2 separate regions of the Homo sapiens genome follow, and region 1 is linked to region 2. Evidence: fine-mapped expression QTL. A gene starts in region 2. The other region holds a variant in brackets. All regions are shown on one strand. Distances are between the middles of the regions. Region 1 overlaps PTK7 (protein tyrosine kinase 7 (inactive)). Region 2 holds the start of PTK7 (protein tyrosine kinase 7 (inactive)).

What was found.
Region 1: its variant is fine-mapped to the expression of PTK7 in whole blood (INTERVAL, PIP above 0.99).

The regions. Positions count from the first base shown.
Region 1 is chr6:43,142,898-43,147,278 of GRCh38, forward strand. PTK7 (protein tyrosine kinase 7 (inactive)) reads left to right here. Exons shown (of 20, transcript NM_002821.5): 14 at 520-723; 15 at 1,554-1,709; 16 at 2,303-2,535; 17 at 3,721-3,801. Among named protein-coding and RNA genes, the nearest start is that of SRF, 26 kb to the right of the region's middle. RefSeq lists an enhancer at 529-618. The variant A/G (reference allele first, on the strand shown) is at 1,777.
Region 2 is chr6:43,073,692-43,078,072 of GRCh38, forward strand. PTK7 (protein tyrosine kinase 7 (inactive)) reads left to right here and starts at 2,623. Exons shown (of 20, transcript NM_002821.5): 1 at 2,623-2,876. The coding sequence starts at 2,798. KLC4 (kinesin light chain 4) reads left to right here. Exons shown (of 16, transcript NM_201521.3): 15 at 211-274; 16 at 931-1,402. The coding sequence ends at 981. KLC4-AS1 (KLC4 antisense RNA 1) reads right to left here and starts at 2,539. Exons shown (of 2, transcript XR_002956347.1): 1 at 2,004-2,539; 2 at 642-1,576. RefSeq lists an enhancer at 1,758-2,281 and a silencer at 2,611-2,710.

The DNA.
Region 1 (4,381 bases), 69 kb after region 2:
TGGCAGTTGGGGGATCCTGCATGGTCTCCCTTCATTCCCCTAATGCCTCTTGAGGCCCCTCAGTGTGGGCCATTAAAAGGCCCCTAGACCAGCAGATCCCTTCTACAGATCTGCTTATTGAAAAACCTGCTCTGTGCCAGGCAGTGCCTGGAATTCTAAACCTGAAGCTCCCAAATGCTGCTCTCCGGGGCCTGGCTCACATTATCAAGTCACTTGGGAAGCTTAACAAATAACGTGGGTTTGTGGTAGCTCCTTGACAGGTGTGCTTATCCGTGTCGCCTGTCTTGGCTTCCGATGCAAAGCCAGCTTGGGAACCCCTGGCCTCATCTCCTTCAGAGTCTTCGTTTGACCTTGGTGGGGCATGAGGACCTGCTGGCCCTTGTTAAAGCCAGTGAAGGTGGTGACCCTCCCGGGCCATCTGTTAAGTTGCCCTGTTGATGGGGTTGGGAGGAGTTAGTAGAGAAGCAGGGCTTCTTTTGCTTAGCAGCCCCTGCCCAGACCCATCTGTGTGTCTCTCAGACAAGCCTGTGCCGGAGGAGTCGGAGGGCCCTGGCAGCCCTCCCCCCTACAAGATGATCCAGACCATTGGGTTGTCGGTGGGTGCCGCTGTGGCCTACATCATTGCCGTGCTGGGCCTCATGTTCTACTGCAAGAAGCGCTGCAAAGCCAAGCGGCTGCAGAAGCAGCCCGAGGGCGAGGAGCCAGAGATGGAATGCCTCAACGGTGAGGGGCCCTGGACGGGGAGGTGGTGCCCGTGTGCGGGAGCTGAGCGCCCTCCCGCGGCCACGGAGGGGAGAGCGCCAGCACTCTGGAAACCGAGCGGCTGTTGCTGGGTCCTGGAGCTGGGACTGCCCCACCCCTAGCGGGAAGCCTGGAGTTGGATTCCCAGGGCCTCGTCTTCTGAGCAACCTGGCTTGAGACTTCTTCATTGGAGCCCCTTGGACCAGCTTCCTATGATTCCCTGCTGTTTCCTCCTCCCAGCACAAAACCACAGATATCATTAGTATATGTACACACGTTGCTGTTGCATGTCTTGTCTCCCTCTATGAGTCTAAGAGCTCCCCCAGGGGCAGTCTTTCTGTTTACTTCCCTTCTCCTATCCCCACTTCCTGGACTGGGAGCTCCTTGAGGTCATTGCTGGGTCTCTCCTATCAGCTCAGGTGTTCAGGAGCAGAGGTTGGGTCTCCATTATTGTGATTTTCCCTTTGTGCCTGTTTAGGGCTTTGCCCAATAGGAGGCCCCATGAAAGCAAAAATCCTTATGTGTAGCTATGGTATTAAGGACCAGTGATTCAGATTAGATGTCTGCAGTTGGCTTCATCTCAGAGGTCATAATCAGCTGCATCACTAAGGGGTCATACCCTAGGGGATAGCCATACATCCCCCACCCAGCCCCAGCCCCATTATTTCATCATTTGGGCTTGCCCTTTCATGTGGAGCACTGTGATTGGACCCAAGTTGGCAAGAGTGGAAGACCAGGGGACAGAACAGAAATCCCCATGGTGGCCAGAGTGTCAGGTCTCATCGTGACGCTCTTGTCCTCCTCCTTCCCAGGTGGGCCTTTGCAGAACGGGCAGCCCTCAGCAGAGATCCAAGAAGAAGTGGCCTTGACCAGCTTGGGCTCCGGCCCCGCGGCCACCAACAAACGCCACAGCACAAGTGATAAGATGCACTTCCCACGGTCTAGCCTGCAGCCCATCACCACGCTGGGTATGTTGCCTTGACTACAGCTGCCCCTGCCTAACTACAAGTCACCCGCTGTGTCTTGAGGCTGGGT[A/G]CGGGCTAGTGTTCTGAAGTCCCTGAAACCTAGAATGTTAGAGGTGGAGGGAAGCATAGGTAGAGATCTAGCCCAGTGTGGCCCCAGAGCCTGTTATTCACTGCCCTTCGTGCAGATTTTGTCATTCCTGTGTACTACCTGTAGTATTATTTACTTGATGTTTTATTTAAATTGACTCTTTAAAAAAAAAAACTAAGTTACCATTGTTCTAGGAAAAAATATGAGAAATCATGGGTTTGTCATAGTTACGTTTTTTCCTAGCATACGTTAAGACATGTTTACCATGAGCCACCAAAAATTCTCATGCGAGTCACCCTTTGGAAAATGCTGAATATTAGTCCCACCCTTTTATTTTGTTGCTGCAGACACTGAAGCCTAAGGAGGGAGGGGGTCACAGCAGAACCGGGTCTCGTGCCCAGCCCAGGTGGGTGGGTCCCCACTGTGGGAGAGGCTAGGCCCCTCCCCCAGGTCAGGAGCTGCCTCGGCCTGGGTGAAGGTGGCTGGCTGACTCAGACTGTACCCACAGGGAAGAGTGAGTTTGGGGAGGTGTTCCTGGCAAAGGCTCAGGGCTTGGAGGAGGGAGTGGCAGAGACCCTGGTACTTGTGAAGAGCCTGCAGAGCAAGGATGAGCAGCAGCAGCTGGACTTCCGGAGGGAGTTGGAGATGTTTGGGAAGCTGAACCACGCCAACGTGGTGCGGCTCCTGGGGCTGTGCCGGGAGGCTGAGCCCCACTACATGGTGCTGGAATATGTGGATCTGGTATGCTGTTGGCAGGGGACGTGGGGGTCTCGGGTAGGGAGGGCAGTGTCCTACAAAGGTGGGAGTCAGTGGTTGGAGCACCGTGAAAACCTTGTCTCGTGCAGTCTCAGCCGAGACCTCACCTGCCTGCTGTTACACTTTGCCCACCTTATGATGCTCAGCTTCTGCCTTCCCTGCTCTTGGATGCCTGCTTTCCCTTTATCAGCACCCAGTCTTTCCATCTGTATCTCAGGGGCGTTGGTCCTAAGTTTTTCTGGGACTTCTCACTGTCACACTGCAGGGATGCCTTCCAGGTCATCTTCTCTGACTCTTGTTTTCTTTGGTTTGTTATTTTTTCCTCCCCAAAAGCTTGTCCCCACTTGAGAATAAATATATCAGAACCCACTTTGCCTCCCTCCTTCCTAGCACCACTTGTGACATGAGTGTTACCCCAGCCACCAGCCTTCTCCTCTCCACTCAGGGTGTCATTCCCAGAGCTGCGCCTTCCTCTTCATTCCCCAGCTGGTCCTTGCCCTCACCCCATGGTCCTCAAACTGCTGCTTCTCAAATCCCTAGTTCTGGGGCAAGAGCGGGCAGGAGTCCTATCAGTCTTTCCATTAACAAGTACTTACGCGGCTGGGCACAGTGGCTCACACTTGTAATCCCAGCACTTTGGGAGACTGAGGCAGGAGGATCGCCTGAGGCCAGGAGTCCGAGACCAGCCTGGGCAACATAGCAAGACTCTGTCTCTACAAAAAAATTAAAAACAAACAAACAAGTACTTATGAATGCTTTATGTATGTTTCTGCTGCTGGCGTTCTCCTTTGTTTGTTTAGATTAGATTGTAAAGCTCTGGAGGACAGGGGTTTCCTCTCAGGAATCTTTGAGGGCAGAGGGTAGGGGACTGTTTTCCTCTTGGCTCACTGAAGATGGGGGCTCTGTTGCCCCACCTGTCTGGAGGTTCCCCTTGGGGTAGAAATGCCAATTCTCCTCCTTTCTAACTGAGACAGCCTCTAGGAGGCGTCTCCTATATATTTTTAAAGTTCTGCACTCCCAGTGAACTTCCCCCTGGGAAAGGGGCCCAGGCTAGCTTAGGCCTTCTCACTGCCTCCCCAGGCAGGAATTCTGCGAGCACCTGCTTGGTCTGAGGCTTTACAGCCAATGGCTGTGCACTGACCTGAGCGAGATGCCTGGCTTTTCCCTTAGGGAGACCTCAAGCAGTTCCTGAGGATTTCCAAGAGCAAGGATGAAAAATTGAAGTCACAGCCCCTCAGCACCAAGCAGAAGGTGAGGACAGGGAGTGAAGGAGGGAGGGAGAGGGTGCCCAGGGGTGGGCCAGGAGCAACAGAGGCACCATTTATTGAGGGCTCTCTATGGGCCAGGCCCTATGGTAAGAACTTCACATGTGTTACTGTAATTATCACGGTAGTCGTCTGAAATATATACTACTATCCCCATTTTGTGGATGAAGACATTGAGGCTTAGGAGGTTGTCTGACCTGTCCCAGGTCATGTAGCCTGGAAGTGGCTTTGCATTGCCATGCTGGCTTCACGGAGAAGAGCTACCCTCGGACCTTGCCTCTGGGCAGGAGCTTGCATTGGAGCAGGACGCCTGCCCACCTGCAATGAGCTCTGAGCTGGAGAAGCAGCAAGCAGTCCTAGTGCAGGGGCCTGCTGGGCTAGCTGTGGGCCTGAGCGTGTTTCTTCAGCTCTGAGTGGAGAAGACTCTTCTGTGAATGGGCTGCCTGGGTTTCCCCCTCTGTGGTTTGCATCTTGTCCTCTCCCTTGGGCTGTAGCTGCCCAGCCTTTCATTCCAGTTTTCCTCCTGCCTTTTGCGCAGAGGTTGTTCTGGGCACAGAGCCCTGGCT
Region 2 (4,381 bases):
TAAAGTAAGCCCTTGCCTCCAACTCCTCTTGGCTCCTGATCTCTGGAGAAGTATCTCGGAGAGAAACAGGGAGGAAGTCAACGGGCCAGCCATGGAGAGAGAGTTTGGGTAGAATGGGTGCCCCAGTGTGGCAGTGCTCAAGAGGCCCACAGCCTTAAGGCCACTCAGGAGGAAGAGAGGAGGCCTCAATTCTTCCGTTTTCCATTGTAGCAGCAACATGAAGCGAGCAGCCTCCTTGAACTATCTGAACCAACCTAGTGCAGCACCCCTCCAGGTGAGAGCAGTGCTTGTGAGCATATTGGTGGGTGAGGAAAAAAGGACAGCCAGTGAGCAAGCCCAGTGGAGTAAGGGAAGAGGGAAGGGAGAGGAGTCATCTGGGATGAAGATGAGCCAGGGGATTGCAGTCATTAAGGAATCAGGCAGATAGCTTGTGGTGAGTGCTGACCACCAAGGGACAGTTTCAGGCCAGACATAGTAGCAAATAAGTTAATAAGGAGGGAAATAGGAATATTCTGTAAACTGGTACTTTGGAATTATGAATAATTTAAGAATTATTTGGAGATACGAATTATTTTTTCATCCTGCAGCCGCCTTAGTAGTAGATGAGAATGGAAAAAGAAAAGTATTAAATAATCCCCATCTGAGAAAACACTAGTGATATTTTAATGGCAAATGACTTCTTGTATCAACACACAAGTATATGCCAGTATTCATGTGGTTCTTCCAGGTAGCTTCTCCACCAGATTGTGGCCTTCTGGAAAACCCTAGCAGAGGCTAAACAAAGTCCCAGGTCCAGAGATAGACTGGTCCAGAGACAGATGTGATCCTAGGTCCAGAGATACACTGTGACCATGGGATGGATGGACTCTAGGAGCCAGTCTTTGGGAGGCCGAGGTCCCTGAGCTGATGGGGTAGTGTTGTCTGTTTCAGGTCTCCCGGGGCCTCAGTGCCAGCACCATGGACCTCTCTTCAAGCAGCTGACATTCAACCCGGCCCCCAGGTCTGCTGGGTCCCCCCACCCCCACAGCCCTCACAGCATTCCCCATTGCTCCTGGCTCTTCCCCACCCCTAGGTGGGACAGTGAAGGGGAGCAGTTTAACCAGAAGATTGCTGCTGCCCTTAGGGTCTCAGCTCCCTCCTCAGGAATCCCTCTTAGGAAGGACCCTCAGGACACCCTCTCTGCACCCTGTGGTCCTCTAGAGTAGCTAGCTCTGAGGCCCCAAGGTGGGTACAAAGCAGGTATGGCCCTCAGAGATGCAGCCTGCTGCTGGCTTTTCAGTCAGAGGGTTGGGGGCTGGCCAGCCAAGCTGCCTTGCCCTGGCCGCTCTTACTCCCTCCCTCTGCTGTCTCACTTCAGGTCCATGTATTTCACTTTTCTTAAATAAAAGAATCAGGTAACCTTTCTGTGACTTGAGTCCTGATTGAAGAGGGTATGAAGCAGGGCTTGTGTTGGGGCCCTTCACAGAAGGTGAGGGGCAGTGATGGATGGAGCAGCAGGAGGAGTGTTGATTCTTGGATCTCTCCTCTCTTCCTCCCGTTGTTTGTATCATCTCCAGCAGGGCCTGTAGGAAGGCATCTGGGGGATGGGGAAGAAGGAGGCTCACAACCCAAGGAGAAGGTGCTGTGGACTGGGTTGTCAGGGACATGTGGTGGCCATGTGGCAGGACCCTGGAGTCCTGGCGCCACTTCTCCTGGCTGTGAGGCCCTCTGTGGCTGCCATTCCTCCTCCCAGCTGCTTGGGGGAAGGGAGGTCTAAACAGGCCTGGGGGGCCCTCCGGAACCAGAGGGGAGACAAGGCACTATCCATCCCCTCTCAGCATATCTTGGAGGCCTGAGCAGCAGCTGGGGCCCATCTTCTAAAGCTTGACTCCTCCTGACCCGCCTCCTACACCCCTTGCTGCTTTCACAACAAAGAAAGAATGTGGGGGTGGTGGCGCTGGGGGTGGGGGTGCCTGGAACAAGGGTTGTGCTGGGCCTCCCCACAGCTGGAGACTTGGCCATACCCTGACACAGCCCAGACTGCCTGGAGATGGACTTGGGATGAATTTGTCAGTTAGCAGACTTCAGCCTGGCTTTCAGAGCCCAGCGTGTTTCTACCTTTGGGTTCAGATTGGTCTACAGCCAAACCAGACCCCAGTCATGCACACTTCAGCCCCTCTCCGGGCTACACAGCATCTTCAGGTTACTTGGGGACATTAAGGACACCCTGCTGTTCTGGGTCTGCCGTTAAGATTTTGGGTTGCTGAAGAGTTGGCGGGGCCCGCCTCTTCCCCTGCCCCCACCTGGAGAATTCTGGGGGAACTGTTGGCCAGAGCCTCCAGGTATGCCCAGAATGGACCATTCTCCCCAGGGTCCACGGAATCGCACAAGTCACTTAGGTTCTCCCGGATCCCTGCAGAGTCGGTGGTGGGTACAGCAAATACTCAGGTCCCCTGCACTTCCCTGAGCCTTGCTCTCTCTATTCTCCATCCCTCTCCAGACCCCTCCCCCTACTGAGCTCCTCCCCGCCTCGGCGAGGAGGGGGCGTCGAGGGGGCGGGGCGCCGTGCGGGGGCCGGAGGGGAGGGGGCGTCGTGGGGCGGGGCTTGGCGGCGGCGGCGGCGGCGCGCGGGGACTCGGAGGTACTGGGCGCGCGCGGCTCCGGCTCGGGACGCCTCGGGACGCCTCGGGGTCGGGCTCCGGCTGCGGCTGCTGCTGCGGCGCCCGCGCTCCGGTGCGCTCCGCCTCCTGTGCCCGCCGCGGAGCGCAGTCTGCGCGCCCGCCGTGCGCCCTCAGCTCCTTTTCCTGAGCCCGCCGCGATGGGAGCTGCGCGGGGATCCCCGGCCAGACCCCGCCGGTTGCCTCTGCTCAGCGTCCTGCTGCTGCCGCTGCTGGGCGGTGAGTACCCGAGAGTTGGGGGCACAGAGCTTGGGAAGCGCGGGAGTCCCGTGGGCAAAAGGCTGCGCCCGGGGCGGTGGGTTTGGGCGGCTGGAACGGCCCTGGAGTAGTGGAGAGGCTCGCTGGGGGTGCAGGCTTGCGGCGGAAGGGCGCAAGGAGCCCGGGTGTCGGGAGGCTGGCGAAGCCTCCAGGGACGCGGTCAGGGTACCCCTCCCACTCGCGCCGCGGGGACGCATTTCCAGCCTCCCTGAGTTTTTCTGGTCTGAGCCGAGAGTTTGCTCGAGAACTGCCGAGAGTTGCTGGCTCTCGGGCCCAGATGGGGAGTTTCTTGTCGGGGGAGAAAAGACCATCCGCACCCACCGTGGGGAGCGCGATGGAGAAAAAGGAATTCCCCACCCCACCCGGCAGGGTCGGCCCAGGTAAGAGTTGCTGGTTTGGGGCCCGATGCCGGACAGACCTGCGGCGCGCAAAGCGCGGAGCTTTGTTACCTACGCCGACCCGACGTTCCCGGCTTCCCTCCTCCGAGTTCCTGGGCAAAGCTGAGACCCCAGATGGCCCTGCGGGTGAGGGCGGAAGAAGGGAAGAGTTAGGGGCCGCCCCCATCCATGGCCTCTAGCTACTGGTCTGGAACCCTGCGCCCACTCCGTGCCAGGGCCGAATCCGGGGATCCGAGGGTCCCAGGCTGTCGCGGTGACTAATGTGTGAAGGCCGCTGCCAAAATCGGGCATGGCCTGGCTGCAAAGGTGCGGACGGGGTTTGTTCTGCTCCTTCCTGGATTTCCATCCTGACTGTCCTCACAGAGGAAAGGAAGTATTTCTAAGGGAAGAAAGGCAAAAAGAGCTCATTCTGGCTTTTCTTGGGGGGGGGCCTTAGCATTTTAACGAGGGTGTGGCCCTCATCACCAGGGCAGACAGCACCGCCCCCCCAACTCCCGCAGCTTTTATTTCCTGGCTTGGTCACACCTAAGAGTCATCACTGAGGTGTTGAAGTGCCTTACAGGAAAGCACCAAGCCACCCGCACATCCCAAATAGCCCGGACTGGAAATAAAGCCCCCGACCCTCCACAACACTCCTTGGTGGTCCTCGAAGCAGCTTTCTCTTGGGGAGCTCTGTCGAGGAGACCTGTCCTAGGTGATCACCTTCCATCTCCTTTGAAGGTGGCAATGGGAAGGGCATGGGTAAGGAATTGCCTTTCTAATATCTTTCTGGCCTGCCAGCTGTGGAGGGGTTTTGGTGCTGGTGGAATCAACATCTCCCCTGCCCCCAGTTGTAAAAGGAGAGGTAAATGTAACCCAGGAAAGAGACCAATCTCCAGGGATTTGGAGGAGGTGTTTCTGGAGTTGCCCCGTTTTTCTTGTGATGTGTGTGGTGGTTATTGCTCGTGGCAGAATCCACATCTGCTCCCAGAGGAAGTATGGAAGTTTTTTTGCACAGCCAGGATGGGGGCCCAGCCATCTGGGCGAGCAGCCCAAGCTCACAGGCCCCCTGGCTGTCCTGGTTGGGTT